Homo sapiens: one gene and its partners. The protein of the gene in region 1 purifies or fractionates together with the protein of each later gene. This does not show direct contact. Each region holds a gene or a part of one and is shown on either strand. Other genes may lie near its edges.

Region 1 (4,770 bases):
TCACTCCTGTTGCCCAGACTGGAGTGCAATGGCGTGATCTCAGCTCACTGCAACCTCCGCCTTTCGGGCTCAAGCGATTCTCCTGCCTCAGCCGCTCAAGTAGCTGGGATTACAGGGATGCACCACCTCGCCTGGCTAATTTTCTATTTTTAGTAGAGACGGGGTTTCTCCACGTTGGTCAGGTTGGTCTGAACTCCCGACCTCAGGTGATCAGCCTGCCTCAGCCTCCCAAAGTGCTGGGATTACAGGTGTGAGCCACCGCTCCCAGCTCTTTCTTTTCTTTCCTTCCTTCCCTCCGTCCTTCCTTCCTCTCTCCTTCCTTGTTTCTTTTCTTTCTTTCCTTCCTTCATTTCTCTTTCTTTTCTTTTTCTTTCTTTCCTTTTTTCCTTCCTTCCCTCCCTCCTTCCTCTCTCTCTCCTTCCTCTCTCTTTCTTTTCTATTCTTTCTTTTTCTTGACCAGTGTGATAATATCAGCCTCAATTTTCTTCATTCCTTTAGCTAAAGGATCCCAGGCCTAGGCATGAGGGAGAAGTGTACCTGCATCTCCTTCCCCCTTGGCCTGGGAGCCCCAGGCTGCCCTTTTCCGTACAGGGCTGGAAGTAGCCTGGGAGCCTGAGGGCTGGCAGAAGGCCGTGAAAGGGGAGCTTGGTCGCTGGCACAGCCGCTGCTATGGCAGCCAGAGCCGAAGAAGGTCACCATTGATCTCACATGCACTTAATTTTCCCTTCCTTGGCATGGGACGGGGTTGACCAGGAGAGCTAAGGGGGAGTATGCGTGTGTGTGTGAGAGGGGAGCGGTGCTGCAGGCTGCGATGCAGCCAGTTACTTTCTCTCTCTGGGCCTCAGTTTCTCCAATGTAAAATGAGGGCGCATGGTATAACTAAAATCATTACTCTCTGCTGGTCCCCACACTCCCACTCTCCAGTAAGGCTGTCAGGGCTGCAAGCTCACCGCGGGATCGGGGGGATGGTCGACCCTCAGATACGGGAGGGATTGAGCGATGCCCAAGGAGAGCAGGAGAACACTGCGCTTGGAGACCCCTGAGAGCCAGGGGCGGGCCGCCCCCTAAAGGGACCCCGGAGTCCCGACTCTCAGCTCCAGCTCTTCCTGTGACACCACCCTCCGGACAGAGACCCAAGCTCCAGGCCCGGCCCCGCCCAGAGGTTCCAGGGAGAAGACCAGGCCACCGCCCACTGCCCGGCGTCGGGGAGGAAAGAGGAGGAGCCTCTGTGTGCCCACATCTCTGGCCGCCCAGGGCAGCTCGGCTCGGTCTCGCAACCCCAGCCCACTGGTTCGGGAGACCTCAAAGGCTCCACCGCCAGCGCCCCCAGCGCTCACTGTGTGCGCCCCACCCCAGCCCTGCCTGCGCGCCGCTCCCGCCACCCTCGCCTCAGTCTCTGGGCCGGAAGCCCCCTCTCCTCCCCCGCCGCAGCCCCCTCCTAGTCCCTCTCCCTCCGCCGATGCGGGAAACCTTCTCCGCCCCGTCCCGCCCTCTTCCTCCAGTTGCATCTCCGCCCGGCTCCTCCGTCCAGTCTCCAACCCAGGCCCCGCCCCTCCCCACCCATTTCCCGCCCTGGGCCGGGCCCCCGGCCCCACCGCCCCCTCCCCGGCCCCGCCCCGGCCCCCGGAAGCCTCACCCCGCCCCCGGCCCCGCCCCCCCGAAGTTTCTTGGGCCCCCGGCAGCCGGCGGGACAGAACGCGGAGAGTCGCCGCCTGGCCGGGCGTAGACGCGGTGGCAGAGCCCGCGCGGCGCTGGAAGCGAGTGGCGGAGCGGCGGGACCTCGGCGGACTCGCCATGGAGGAGGAGGTGAGGGCGGGGCCCGGCGGGGCGTTGGGCTGGGGTCCTCGAGCCCCTCACGGGGATTGCGGTCCTGGGCTCAGGCCCTCGTTCCTGCCCGCCCCACTCCCGCCAGTCTCACCTCAGGAAGAGCCTGGGCAAATGGGGCAGGGGCGAGGGGCTGGATCCATATCGGGGACTTCGCAGACCGCGTCCTCCTTCATTCTCGCTGACTTTCTCACCAGTTGTGGGGCGTCGTGGTTGTTACCGTTCCCATTGGATTGACCAGGAGACTGAGACTCCAGCGAGATTGATGACTTGCTGAAAGTGGCCTGGGTGACTGGGCTCGAACCCCGATTACCGTGGTCGGATCCTGACTCTCTCTCTCTCTCTGTGTGTGTGTGTGTGTGTGTGTGTGTGTGTGTCGGATCCTGACTGTGTGTGTGTGTGTATGTGTGTGTTGGGGGGTTCCTGTCTCAAGGATCGGATCCTGACTCTGTGTGTGTGTGTATGTGTGTGTTGGGGGGTTCCTGTCTCAAGGATGTGACCATGCTTTGGTGGCAGGAGGATTGGAGAAGTTGCTTTTTTCTCCCTTGTATAAGTCTCTGTATCTTTTCCCCCACTCTCTCCCCGCTCCACATCCATCTGAGCAGCTAGCTGTAGGGAAGGAATCGGGAGTCCGGCCCACCTAGGGTCTGATCTTAGTCCCTGCCTTCCCCACCCGAGGGCTGGACCAACTGTGTCCCTGGAGCCTCCTTCTAACCACTCAAAACACTCTTGGCCTGGGATTGGGTCTTGCCCCTGCCCCTGCCCTTTACTTGCAAACTCAGTTCTGCCAGCAGCCGCTTTATCCGAGGGTCCAGCACGCAGCAAGCACTTAATATATGCCTGTGGAATGATTAAGTTAAAATGAGGGGCCTGTTGGGTCTAGAGGAAGGTGAATTTGTTTCTTATCCCCTGAGGGGGTCCCAGCTTCAGCCCCTCTCAGCCCAAGGGAAGGGGCATGTCTTTGCCTCCTTGGATGGGGAGGAAAGATGAAGTTCTCTGCCTTGGGGGAACCCTGGCCAGCTGGGAAGCCCTGAGTGGACCGGACTGCCTGTGTCCCTTCAGTGCCCACCTCCCACTTTTCCAGGGCCATGGATAGGAGCAGCTAGTGGTCCGTCAGGGCTCCCTCTAGGCCAGGCCCTGCCTTTCTGTGGGATGGTAGATAAGTCACTTCCCCTCTCAGCCTTCATTTCCTCTTCTACAAAATATAGTGCCTGTCCTCCTCATACTCCTGGCCTGACAGTGGCCGGTTCTCTCAGTGGGTGAAGGTAGGGGGCAAAGTCAGGCCTCTGTGATTTGCTGCGGTTTCTTTCTGGCTGTTAGGTGGGGCTGCCATCTGCCTGCCCCAGGCCCCTGCTGCAAGGGCTGGGCTCTCTGGCCAGGGCCCCTCCCCTGCTCCCAGAGGATGTGGGTCAGGATTACTCCATCTCCTGATCTGCGCTGGCCCCTGATTAAGGGAAGTTCTCCGGACACCTCCTGGGCCCGGCTCAGCTCTGTACACCCTTGGTCCTGAATCTCTCACATTGTCACTTTCTTTTCTTTTTTTTTTTTTTTGAGACGGAGTTTCGCTCTTGTTGCCCAGGCTGGAGTGCAGTGGCGAGATATTGGCTCACCGCAACCGCCACCTCCTGGGTTCAAGCAATTCTCCTGCCTCAGCCTCCTGAATAGCTGGGATTACAGGCATGCACCACCACGCCTGGCTAATTTTGTATTTTTAGTAGACATGGGGTTTCTCCATGTTGGTCAGGCTGGTCTCGAACTCCTGACCTCAGGTGATCCGCCTGCCTCGGCCTCCGAAAGTGTTGGGGTTACAGGCATGAGCTATTGCACCCAGCCTATATTGCCACTTTCTGACTCCTAGATGCCCAAAGCTCTCTAAATATCTGGGCCATCTAAGTTCTTGTCCACTTTACCCAAGCCCCTGCAAGCCTCACCCCCACAGCAGGGGCTTCCTTTCCCTACTCCCCTTTGGCATCCCTAACTCTGCTTTCCTCCCACTTCTCCCAGTAGCTTCCGCTTGTTGCACTAGGCCTCAGTGCCCATCTTTGTTTCTCTAAAACACCTCTTAGGTCATAGCCACATGCTCTGCCCCATGATCCCAGGCCATCTTCATCATCTCTTTCACATGGCTGCTTTCAGCCCTCCTGCTAGCTTTCAGCTTCCTCCCTGTGCCCGGCCACCCTGGGCCAAGGTCCCTCAGCCTCAGTGACCTCCTCTATGCAACGGGCAGGCTGGTAGCTCTTGTCAGGCTGAGGCTTGGGGAGGAGATGCTGGTCTGGGCACTGGGCATCTGCCCACCTGTGTGCTCCTGGCCTCGGTTCCTCCTTTGTAAAAGGAAAAGGGTGGGTGATCGAGCAATGTGATGATGTATATTCAAAAGCTGAGAAAACTGCGAATATCAGTGGGGGTATTATTGCTGCCATTGGAGTAAGGGTGGAAATCCTGGACCTAGGCTTTCCCTTCTGTACTCTGGGGCTCTGTCCTCTGCCAGCAGTCATGCCTTTCCCTGGCTTCTAGGCTCTCCACTTGCCCTCACCATCTAGAGACAAGCAGGGCAGTGTCCTGTCCCAGTACTGTTTCTGTCCCACGGAGTAATCTCTTGCCCTTTCTGGGCTGTACTTTCTCTTTCTATAGTAAAGGGGTTGAGGGGGCAGGGGCTTTGATAACCTTTTGTGCCTTGCCTTCTCTGGACCAAGGCGTGTGTCTCTTCCCCTGCTCAGAGCCCTCCCCAAACCCTACCTTCTGCAGGGGTCTCCCAAACGAACCCCAAGCCCTTATCTCATCAGAGAGCTAGGACCGGTGCATCCCTCTGGTTAAGTGCTATGTCTCTGCCAATAGGCTGGAGCCTCTCAAGCAGGAGATTACCCGCTCCCCACCAGACAGGGGACTTATCTTATACAGCGTCTCTGTTACCCACCTCAGACTGAAGGTTGCCCTGGGGCAGAGCCT
Region 2 (3,500 bases), on another chromosome or scaffold:
CCATATTGAGTATATGATATGTGCCTGGCCTTGTGTATGGATGTGCAGGCCACTATCCCTGACGACAGGGAGGTCACAGTCCTGCTGGGGAGATGAGAGATTTACATACCTGAACCAGGGATGCGTGCTTAGATTTGAGAGGTGAAAGGTCAGAGTGGGCTTCCCAGAGGAAGTGGGTCTAATGGATGGAAAGGACAAGGAAAAGGGAGAAGGGGTGAGAGTCTGTCCTAGGGGCCAACGAGAACAGTGAGCTGTTTCAGGGGAGCCATTTCCTTGTCCATGCTCACAAGCCTGTGGATTCTTCCCCCTCTGCAGGAAATTACCTGATGTTCCAAACCCCCTCCAGATCCTGTATATCCGCAGCATCTCCCCTTTCCCTGAGCTGGAACAGTTTCTACAGGACACTATCAAGAGGTACTAGGGGCCTGGAGGTTTGGGCTCCAAGAGAAGCTTGACAGAGCCCACGCCCGACCCCTACTTCTGTTTCTTCCTAAGGTATAATCTGCAGATGTTGGAAGCTGAGGGCAGCATGAAGCAGGCCCTGGGTGAACTGCAGGCACGGCACCCCCAGCTGGAGGCTGTCCTTATGGGCACCCGCCGGACTGACCCCTACTCCTGTAGCCTCTGCCCTTTCAGCCCCACTGACCCAGGCTGGCCCGCATTCATGCGCATCAACCCACTGCTGGTAATGGGGAAGAGGGTTTATCACCTTCAGTCTCACGTGCCCCAGCAGTCACTGCACCCTAGCTCACCTGCAGTAGTGGGGAGGCTAGAGCCTGGAACCTGGATGAAGGGGCCTCATCATCCAAGGGAGGCAGTGCTATCTGTTCATTCATCCTTTTGACCAATATTTATTGAGCCCAAATTCAATAGCAGGCATTGCACTTCCTACTGTGGATAGAATAGTGACTTAGACTTGTGCTGTCCAATATAGCCATTAATTATTTATTTATACTTAAATTTTAATTAATTAGAATGAAATACATATGACTAAAAACCACTGAATTATATACTTTAAAAGGATGAATTTGATGGTATGTGGATACCTCAATTTTTAAAATTAAGTACAATTAAAAATTCAGTTCTGGCTGGGCGCAGTGGCTCACGCCTGTAATCCCAGCACTTTGGGAGGCCATGGTGGGCAGATCACTTGAGGCCAGGAGTTCGAGACCAGCCTGGCCAACATGGCGAAACCCTGTCTCTACTAAAAATACAAAAAATTAGCCAGGCGTGGTGGCCTGTAGTCCTAGTTACTCGAGAGGCTGAGGCAGGAGAATTGCTTGAACCCAGGAGACGGAGGTTGCAGTGAGCTGAGATGGCACCACTGTACTCCAGCCTGGGCAACAGAACAAGACTCTGTCTCAAAAAAAAAAAAAAAAAAAATATATATATATATATGTATATATATATATACACACACACATACACAGGCCGGGCGTAGTGGCTTACACCTGTAATCCCTGCACTTTGGGAGGCTGAGGCAGGTGGATCGCCTGAGGTCAGGAGATCGAGACCAGCCTAACCAAAATGATGAAACCCAGTCTCTACTAAAAATACAAAAATTAGCGGAGCGTGGTGGCAGGCACCTGTAATCCCAACTACTCAGGAGGCTGAGGTAGGAGAATCACTTGAACCCAGGAGGCAGAGGTTGCAGTGAGCCAAGATGGCACCACTATACTCCAGCCTGAGCAACAGAGTGAGACTCCGTCCAAACAAACAAAAAAAAAATACAGTTATTCAGTTGTACTAGCCACATTTCAAATGACCACCATATTAGACAGTAGAGATACAGAACATTTCCATCATCACAGGAAGTTCTGGCCAGGCACAGTGGCTCACACCTGTAACCCCAGCACTCTGGGAGGCCGAGGTGGGCTGATCAATGCCTGTAGTCCCAGCTACTCAGGCTGAGGCGGGAAGATCGCTTGAGCCAGGGAAGTCGAGGCTGTAGTGAGCCATGATCATGCCAGTGCACTCCAGCCTGGGCAACAGTAAAGGCCCTGTCTAAAAAAAATAGGGCTGGGCACGGTGGCACACGCCTGTAATCCCAGCACTTTGGGAGGCCGAGGCAGGCACATCACGAGGTCAGGATTTCAAGACCAGCCTGACCAACATGGTGAAACCCCATCTCTACTAAAAAAATACAAAAATTAGCCGGCTGTGGTGGCGCATGCCTGTAATCCCAGCTACTCAGGAGGCTGAGGCAGGAGAATTGCTTAAATCTGGGAAGCGGAGGTTGCAGTGAGCCAAGATCGCGCCACTGCACTCCAGCCTGGGTGACAGAGCAAGACTCCGTCTCAAAAAAAAAAAAAAAAATAGGGCCGGGCATGGTGGCACACGCCTGTAATCCCAGCACTTTGGGAGGCCGTGGCGGGCGGATCATGAAGTCAGGAGATGGAGACCATCCTGGCTACACAGTGAAATCCCGTCTCTACTAAAAATACAAAAAATTAGCTGGGCACAGTGGTGGGCGCCTGTAGTGCCAGCTACTCGGGAGGCTGAGGCAGGAGAATGGCATGAACCCGGGAGGCAGAGGTTGCAGTGAGCCAAGACCACGCCACTGCACTCCAGCCTGGGCGACAGAGCCAGACTCCGTCTCAAAAAAAAAATAGACGGTTTCTCCCTGTCCTCAAGCTCCACCCTTGCACTAGAGGGTGGTTCAAGAATGGAAAGCAGAGAGTGGAGAAGATGAAGTCCTTCTCTTTCTCTTTGCATACATAGAGCAAGCTATACCAGAGAATCAGATAGCAAGCCCTCCCTCAGAGGCCAAGGGAGCAGAAGAGCCATGGATGGGCCCCTTCCCAGGACAGCAGGGGTAGAAGTGGGAAAGGTGAGCATTTGTGACTATTCTATTACTCTGACCTCCCAGGACTGGACCTACAGAGACATCTGGGATTTTCTGCGTCAGCTGTTTGTCCCATACTGTATCCTGTATGACCGAGGGTAAGGGTATTAGGGGAAGGGAATGGGTAAGGGAGTTTTTAGGGTGCTGGGATAGGGAGGGCCAATAGGATCGCCCACCCTACCACATGCTTGCCCTCCACCCTCCCTGCTCCAGATACACATCACTGGGGAGTCGGGAGAATACCGTGCGGAACCCGGCCCTGAAGTGCCTGAGCCCAGGAGGACACCCCACATACCGTCCAGCCTATCTACTGGAGAACGAAGAAGAGGAGCGGAACTCCCGCACATGACCTCCCACCCTAGGAGGGAGGGAAGGACACCGTCCTAGGGTATAACCTGGCAATAAACCGTGCCTCTCACTGTGCCTGTTGCTCTAGCTGTGTCTTCCTGCTCCAGAGGATGGGAGAAGCAGAAGTGGGTCAAATGCTGCCAGCTCTGACTGGCTGTGCTCACTCTAAGGGGCCCAGGGGCAGGGCAGAACAGGCTGGAAAGGAGCTCTCACTGATGGTTCTCAATGTCAGCCTCAGCAGGAGCCCACCAGAGGGCGAAAGCAGGAGTTGTGCCAACCACTGGGAAAAGGGCAATCAGGCAGGGCA
Region 3 (3,500 bases), on another chromosome or scaffold:
GTAACCAACATTTGTATTCAGTTCCAAATAGAATGAAGTCTTATAGTACTGATATTTAAACCACTATTAGGAGGAAGTTATCCATTAAAAAATTGTGCACAAACTAGGAAATAGGTTGAATCGAGTCAAATTTGTGTCCCCTGATCCCTTTGAGACATTTGCCTTTTTCTGGCATTAATAGTACAGCACAATTAAACAGACATTTATTGAGGACCTAATACGTATAAGAAATTATCAAGGTACTGGGGGGATGACTAAGCTATGGATACAACCTATGCTCCAGAGGAGCCCACACTCATGTCATGCCTCTGCTTCAAACCCTGAAATGGCTTACACCTTGCCCAGAGATGTCACCAGCACACAGCAGGCCCCTGGATTCTCTCACCTGTGCACAACACTCCAGTGACACGCGCCTCCTTGCCTTGAGCAGACAGGCACATTTCTACCCCAGGAACTGTGCAGAATGTTCTGAGTAGAATGTTCTCCCACTTCTTTAGGTCTTTACTCAGAAGTCATGTTCTTAGGAAGCCTTCCCTGATCTACTAAAATTAAATCTCAAATTTAGCTCCATAGCTGCCATTTCATATTCCCCTTCCCTGCTTTATTTTTTCTCCTTAGCCTATATCACTATCTAAATTCTTGTCAGTCTTGCTTGTCCTCTCTCTCATACAAAACAAGCTCCATCCATAAGGGCAGAGATCTTTGCACTGTGGACTACTGCATCCTCAATGCCTGGTACATAGTAGTCACTAATCACAAGCTGGCATGTAGAGTTGTGATAATATGTATAAGTGGAGGTAAAATCCAAAAGCCATGAGGACATAACAGAAAGAGTAATTCTGACTGGATTTGTTCAGAAAATCAGAGAAGTTTCACATTAGTGGGAGACATGGAGAAAGTAGAACAGAACTGTCACCTATGGTTGAGGGAAGAGGAGTGGGAATGGTAACAATAAAAGAACCAACACAGAGTTGGCATGGACCAGATGTGAGATGTGAGGCGACAAGGAGCTCCACGTTTCTGGAATGAATCACACGGAACAGTAGTCTCAAAATTCCTGGCAATATAGTAGTTTCCTGTGACACCCTAACAGTCAGATACTGAGGCAGATCCAAAGCTAAAAAGCCCCTGCAGGTCCTTACCTCAGGAAGATGCCCACTCCAGAGCCACAGGAGTAGGTGTGAGCTGTGCAGGCTCCTACATCCTCCCCTTCCAGTTCAGTCTGGCAGCAGTAACTCTGGGAGCACAGCAGAGATCCGCACACAAGGCACAGAGTTGGGGCTCTGCTCTTATCACCACCTGATTTCGGGCACCTCCAAGGGATAAAAAACCCACAAGTCATTGATCTAAAGAGTGGCTAAAGAGCTAGTGATGAAAAAACCAGCCCAGAAAAGAATTCTGCAATATCAAGTAAAGCCAAAGAAGTGTATATCCTACAGTCTATGCAAGTTTATTCCTAGAATCTGGAATAGGAAACATCTTGCACATATATACAAAGACCATGTACTGGAAACACTCAAAAGAATCAGTAACTGGAGAAAAAAAAATAAATAAAATCATCAATAGGAGAAAAAGATAAACGGTACCACTGCCATATAATAAAATACTATGGAGCAATGAAAAATCAATAAAGTTATAAACGTCAATACAGATAAATCTTAGAAACAATGCTGAATGAATGCAAAATTGGCTGGGTGCAGTGGCTCACGCCTGTAATCCCAGCACTTTGGGAGGCAAAGGTGGGTGGATCAACTGAGGTCAGGAGTTTGAGACCAGCCTGACCAATATGGTGAAACCCCGTCTCTACTAAAAATACAAAAATTAGCCAGGCATGGTGGTGTGCACCTGTAGTCCCAGCTACTTTGGAGGCTGAGACTGGAGAATCACTTGAACCTGGGAGGCGGAGGTTGCTGTGAGCCAAGATCACACCACTGCACTCCAGCCTGGGCAACAGAGTGAGACCCTGTCTCAATAAATAAATAAATAAATAAATAAATAAAATAAAATACAACATACAGCTCTCCCTCTCCCTCTCTTCTCTCCCTCTCCCCTTTGCACAGTCTCCCTCTGATGCCGAGCCGAGGCTGGACTGTACTGCCGCCATCTTGGCTCACTGCAACCTCCCTGCCTGATTCTCCTGTCTCAGCCTGCCCAGTGCCTGGGATTGCAGGCGCGCGCCGCCACGCCTGACTGGTTTTTGTATTTTTTGGTGGAGACGGGGTTTCGCCGTGTTGGCCGGGCTGGTCTCCAGCTCCTGACGGCGAGTGATCTGCCAGCCTCGGCCTCCCGAGGTGCCAGGATTGCAGAGGGAGTCTTGCTCACTCAGTGCTCAATGTTGCCCAGGCTGGAGTGCAGTGGCGCGATCTCGGCTCGCTACAACCTCCACCTCCCAGCCGCCTGCCTTGGCCTCCCAAAGTGCGGAGATTGCAGCCTCTGCCCGGCCGCCACCCCGTCTAGGAAGTGACGAGCGTCTCTGCCCGGCCGCCCAGTCTGAGAAGTGAGGAGCCCCTCTTCCTGGCCGTCATCCCGTCTAGGAAGTGAGGAGCGTCTCTGCCCGGCCGCCCATCGTCTGGGATGTGGGGAGCGCCTCTGCCCCGCCGCCCCGTCTGGGATGTGAGGAGCGCCTCTGCCCGGCCGCGACCCTGTCTGGGAGGTGAGGAGTGTCTCCGACCGGCTGCCCCGTCTGAGAAGTGAGGAGCCCCTCCGCCCGGCAGCCGCCCCGTCTGGGAAGTGAGGAGCGTCTCCGCCCAGCAGCCGCCCAGTCCGGGAGGTGGGGGGCAGCCCCTACCCGGCCAGCTGCCCCGTCCGGGAGGTGGGGGGCAGCTCCCACCCGGCCAGCCGCCCCGTCCGGGAGGTGGGGGGCGCCTCTGCCCGGCTGCCCCGTCTGGGAAGTGAGGAGCCTCTCTACCTGGCCGCCACCCCATCTGGGAGGTGCAACCAACAGCTCATTGACAACAGGCCGTGATGACGATGGCGGTTTTGTCGAATAGAAAAGGGGGAAATGTGGGGAAAAGAAAGAGAGATCAGATTGTTACTGTGTCTGTGTAGAAAGAAGTAGACATAGGAGACTCCATTTTGTTCTGTACTAAGAAAAATTCTTCTGCCTTGGGATGCTGTTAATCTATAACCTTACCCCCAACCCCGTGCTCTCTGAAACATGTGCTGTGTCCACTAAGGGTTAAATGGATTAAGGGCGGTGCAAGATGTGCTTTGTTAAACAGATGCTTGAAGGCAGCATGCTCGTTAAGAGTCATCACCACTCCCTAATCTCAAGTACCCAGGGACACAAACACTGCGGAAGGCCGCAGGGACCTCTGCCTAGGAAAACCAGAGACCTTTGTTCACATCTTTATCTGCTGACCTTCCCTCCACTATTGTCCTATGACCCTGCCAAATCCCCCCCTCCGAGAAACACCCAAGAATGATCAATAAATACTAATTAAAAAAAAAACATACAAAATAACAATACATGCTGCTCAAGAATAGAAACTTATATAGTT
Region 4 (3,500 bases), on another chromosome or scaffold:
AATGGCCTGATCTCTCCAACTCTGTGTGGGCCCGGTCCAGACCAGGAGGGCTCTATGGAGGCAGATGGGGTTTTGGGCCCTGGACCAAAACACTCATCTGCTTACCTCGCCTCGCCCCAAGAATGGGGACTTTGGAGCAGACCGGAATAAAGGAAATGATCTTCTGGAGTGGGATCTCTGAGTGCCAGTGTTGGCCGGTTTCCTGGACATCACCTCTGCCAGCAGTGAGCTCTGGGCCTCACAGGTGTGTCTGTTCATCCAGTGGTCCTTTTCCTCTCGTAGGAAAGGATGCCTGTGCTGCACCTGGCCAGAGCCAGACCCTTCCCCACCCTGCGCAGTTTGACCAGCGATGGGCTCAGCATCTGACACCTGACACCTCCATCCGACAGGTGTTCCCTGAGTGACACTTGGTTAGCCAGACAGCCCTGCCCTCATCTGCCCTCCTGTAGACTCACCCGTGGACACACCATGGTGTACTCGGTTTGAGAGCTTAATCATAGTGGGTAGTGCCGGAGAGGGGAATGGGACAGGATGTGGTCCTGCCGCAGGGGCTGGCCGCAGCCTGCCTGAGGGAGCCCTGGGCAGGGGGCCAAGGGTAGCCCACCTGAGTATCGGCCCCCTGGATGCTCCGCAGGTCTGCGGGTTGGAGTGAGGGCAGACCAGCCAGGGCACCCTCATTCTCCTGGGAGGATGCCTTGCTTTCTTGGTCTGGTGGTCTCTTAGTTACATTACACTCCGGTGTATTCGTGTACTGATTTTTCACAAAAGCTTTTTAGTTTGGAATGGTATGACTTACTGTAAAATTGCAAAAAAAAAAAAAAAAAAAAAAGAGTACAGAGAATTCTTGTATACCCATCACCCACATTCTGTAAATGTGTATTTTTTGTTATATAATAGCTTTGGTGAGACATAATCTACAGATACATGTTAATTTCTAGTACTTAATTTTACATTAACCGTTTGGCAGGTGTCTACTTTTCCTAATTGTTTTTGTCTCTCAACAGCCGTAGAAAGTAGATTAAGTCCCTGAGGCCCATATTCACACCGCTGGTCCCTTAGTAAATAGTTGTTGGACGCATGCATGCATGAGCATAACTCATAGCTGGGCGTGCTAGAGCTGTCATTGGGTCTGTCTGACTCCCAAGCCTGTACCCACCCAGTGCACTCTGCGGCCCACCTTCCCAGCTGTCCAGGGCTGAGGGCAGGGTGCTCCCAGAATGCACCTGCCACACCGTGGCTTTGGGGCTTAATAGGTGTCAGAGAGGCCCCAGACTTTCTGATAAAGATGTGCTCACCACGAGAGATGAGATTTCTCTCTTTGGGGCTTAATTGGGGTCGGAGAGGCTACAGACTTTCGCCACAAGAAATGAGATTTCGCATAGTTTTTGTTGGTTATCAACAGCATTTGCGGTTCCCATCAGCTGACTCCACCCCTCACCTCTGCTCACGGCAGTCCCAGTGAGCCACAGTAGTTGACCTGGGTCTGTTGGGTTTGGGATCCCAGACTGATTCCCATTTCTCATCTAACCTTTTCGTTCCCTCTTCCATTTGATCGTAATTAGAAATCCCTCTTCCATTTGATTATAATTAGAAATGTTTCTGGGCCAGGCGCAGTGGCTCATGCCTGTAATCCCAGCACTTTGGGAGGCTGAGGCGGGTGGATCACTTGAGGTCAGGGTTTTGAGACCAGCCTGGCCAACATGGCAAAACCCCATCTCTACTAAAAATACAGAAATTAGCCAAGTGCAGTGGTGCACACCTGTGATCCCAGCTACTCAGGAGGTTGAGGCAGGAGAATCGTTTGAACCTGGGAGGCGGAGGTTGCAGTGAGCCGAGATGGTGCCACTGCACTCCAGCCTGGGAGATGGTGAGGCTTCATCTCAAAAACAGAAAAAAAGAAAAGATGTTTTTGCATTGCGTCGGATTTGAGGAGGAAGCACTGTCTCAAGCTGAGCCCTTCATTTCCGGCTAGCGCTTTGTAGGAGGTTGCTCCGAAAGACCAACTGGAGCCCTGGTCTGCCAGGCTCAGGAGGGATCAGGGTGTAGGGAGTTTGTTGCTGTATTTTCTCATCTGCCCTGTAAAATATCCCAAAAGACAGAAATATCGAACAACCGTGGTGACTCCAGTAGTCATGGCCTGCATGGATTGTCACTGGATGTCAGTCGTGCTGCATTCTTTATCTGGGAGGAGTGTGACGCCCAGAGAGGTTCAGTAAGCCAAAGACCACACAGATAGAGGAGGTGGCAGAGTCCAACCTCAGATTCATCTTTATGACGCCTAAACCTACTACACCCCCAGGAATGCTGCACCCCCTCCCCCAGCCACAGAACGATCAGAACACACCCAAGGATCGGCTCCCATAACTGTCGCAGGGAGGGCCCTGAATCCCAGAATCTTTGCTGAGCAGCAGCCTGGGACCCAGGCTGATGATCTGTCCTTTAGCATCTAACAGGCACATTGGCCTGTTTCCTGCAGGTATTTTGAAGGTGGCGTCTCATCTGTCTACCTCTGGGATCTGGATCATGGCTTTGCTGGAGTGATCCTCATAAAGAAGGCTGGAGATGGATCAAAGAAGATCAAAGGCTGCTGGGATTCCATCCACGTGGTAGAAGTGCAGGTACTGCCTCCCAGCAGCTGGTGGCCCGGGCCACTAAGTACAGATGGCACACCAACCAGTGCCGCGCTGCTCTCTAACAGATGCAGTAGGGGGATGCTGTGATCTCTGAACCCCTAATTCTGAGAAATGCCTCAAAGCCATTTGGATAAAGATAAGTCTGCAGTAGTCATTGATGATTAAGTTCCCAGAAGAAATACATAATTACAAATGTCCCTTTAAAAACCAGTTGAGATTTTTTAAGAAAGACAATATTGTGAGGCCAGGTACGGTGGCTCGGGCCTGTAATCCCAGCAGTTTGGGAGGCTGAGGTGGGCAGATCACCGGAGGTCAGGAGTTCAAGACCAGCCTGGCCAATATGGCGAAACCGCATCTCTACCAAAAACACAAAAAACATTAGCCAGGCGTGGTGGCGGGCGCCCATAATCCCAGCTACTTGGGAGGCTGAGGCAGGAGAATCGCTTGAACCTGGGAGGTGGAGGCTGCAGTGACTTGAGATCGCACCACTGCACTCCAGCCTGGGTGACAGAGCGAGACTTTGTCTCCAATTTAAAAAAAAAAAAGGTAATATTGTGATAATGACCTAGGAAGGGAGATGTTAGGATGACCCTGAATTCCAGGGGCCACTTCAGGCTCTCCCTCAGCTCAACAGATCTCTGTCTTGTCCTTCCAGGAGAAATCCAGCGGTCGCACCGCCCATTACAAGTTGACCTCCACGGTGATGCTGTGGCTGCAGACCAACAAATCTGGCTCTGGCACCATGAACCTCGGAGGCAGCCTTACCAGACAGGTAGAGTTACCCGCTCATAGCCACTTGCCAGTGCCCACAGGTGCTGGCCTCAGTGCTGACCTGCAGAGATGAGTGAGCAGGTGCCCCATTTAGGG

What was found. Proteins that work in one complex are often made in the same cells at the same time.
Region 2: the proteins of PLEKHO2 (region 1) and FLAD1 purify together in Homo sapiens (affinity purification with mass spectrometry; 3 studies listed by BioGRID and IntAct, with this or other methods). This does not show direct contact.
Region 3: the proteins of PLEKHO2 (region 1) and UBR2 purify together in Homo sapiens (affinity purification with mass spectrometry; 3 studies listed by BioGRID and IntAct, with this or other methods). This does not show direct contact.
Region 4: the proteins of PLEKHO2 (region 1) and CAPZB purify together in Homo sapiens (affinity purification with mass spectrometry; 5 studies listed by BioGRID and IntAct, with this or other methods). This does not show direct contact.

What each region holds. Positions count from the first base shown.
Region 1 is NC_000015.10:64,840,223-64,844,992, forward strand, and holds the start of PLEKHO2 (pleckstrin homology domain-containing family O member 2), read left to right. Parts: upstream 1-1,692; 5' UTR 1,693-1,794; coding exon 1,795-1,806; intron 1,807-4,770.
Region 2 is NC_000001.11:154,989,844-154,993,343, forward strand, and holds the end of FLAD1 (FAD synthase), read left to right. Parts: intron 1-315; coding exon 316-414; intron 415-495; coding exon 496-685; intron 686-2,721; coding exon of another isoform or gene 2,722-2,748; exon of another isoform or gene 2,749-2,869; coding exon 2,870-2,943; coding exon of another isoform or gene 2,944-2,947; exon of another isoform or gene 2,948-3,058; coding exon 3,059-3,194; 3' UTR 3,195-3,268; downstream 3,269-3,500. UniProt on the Homo sapiens protein: Catalyzes the adenylation of flavin mononucleotide (FMN) to form flavin adenine dinucleotide (FAD) coenzyme.
Region 3 is NC_000006.12:42,686,029-42,689,528, reverse strand, and holds part of UBR2 (E3 ubiquitin-protein ligase UBR2), read right to left. Parts: intron 1,314-3,500; coding exon 1,143-1,313; intron 543-1,142; coding exon of another isoform or gene 521-542; exon of another isoform or gene 1-520. UniProt on the Homo sapiens protein: E3 ubiquitin-protein ligase which is a component of the N-end rule pathway.
Region 4 is NC_000001.11:19,356,540-19,360,039, reverse strand, and holds part of CAPZB (F-actin-capping protein subunit beta), read left to right. Parts: intron 1-2,476; coding exon 2,477-2,618; intron 2,619-3,288; coding exon 3,289-3,405; intron 3,406-3,500. UniProt on the Homo sapiens protein: F-actin-capping proteins bind in a Ca(2+)-independent manner to the fast growing ends of actin filaments (barbed end) thereby blocking the exchange of subunits at these ends.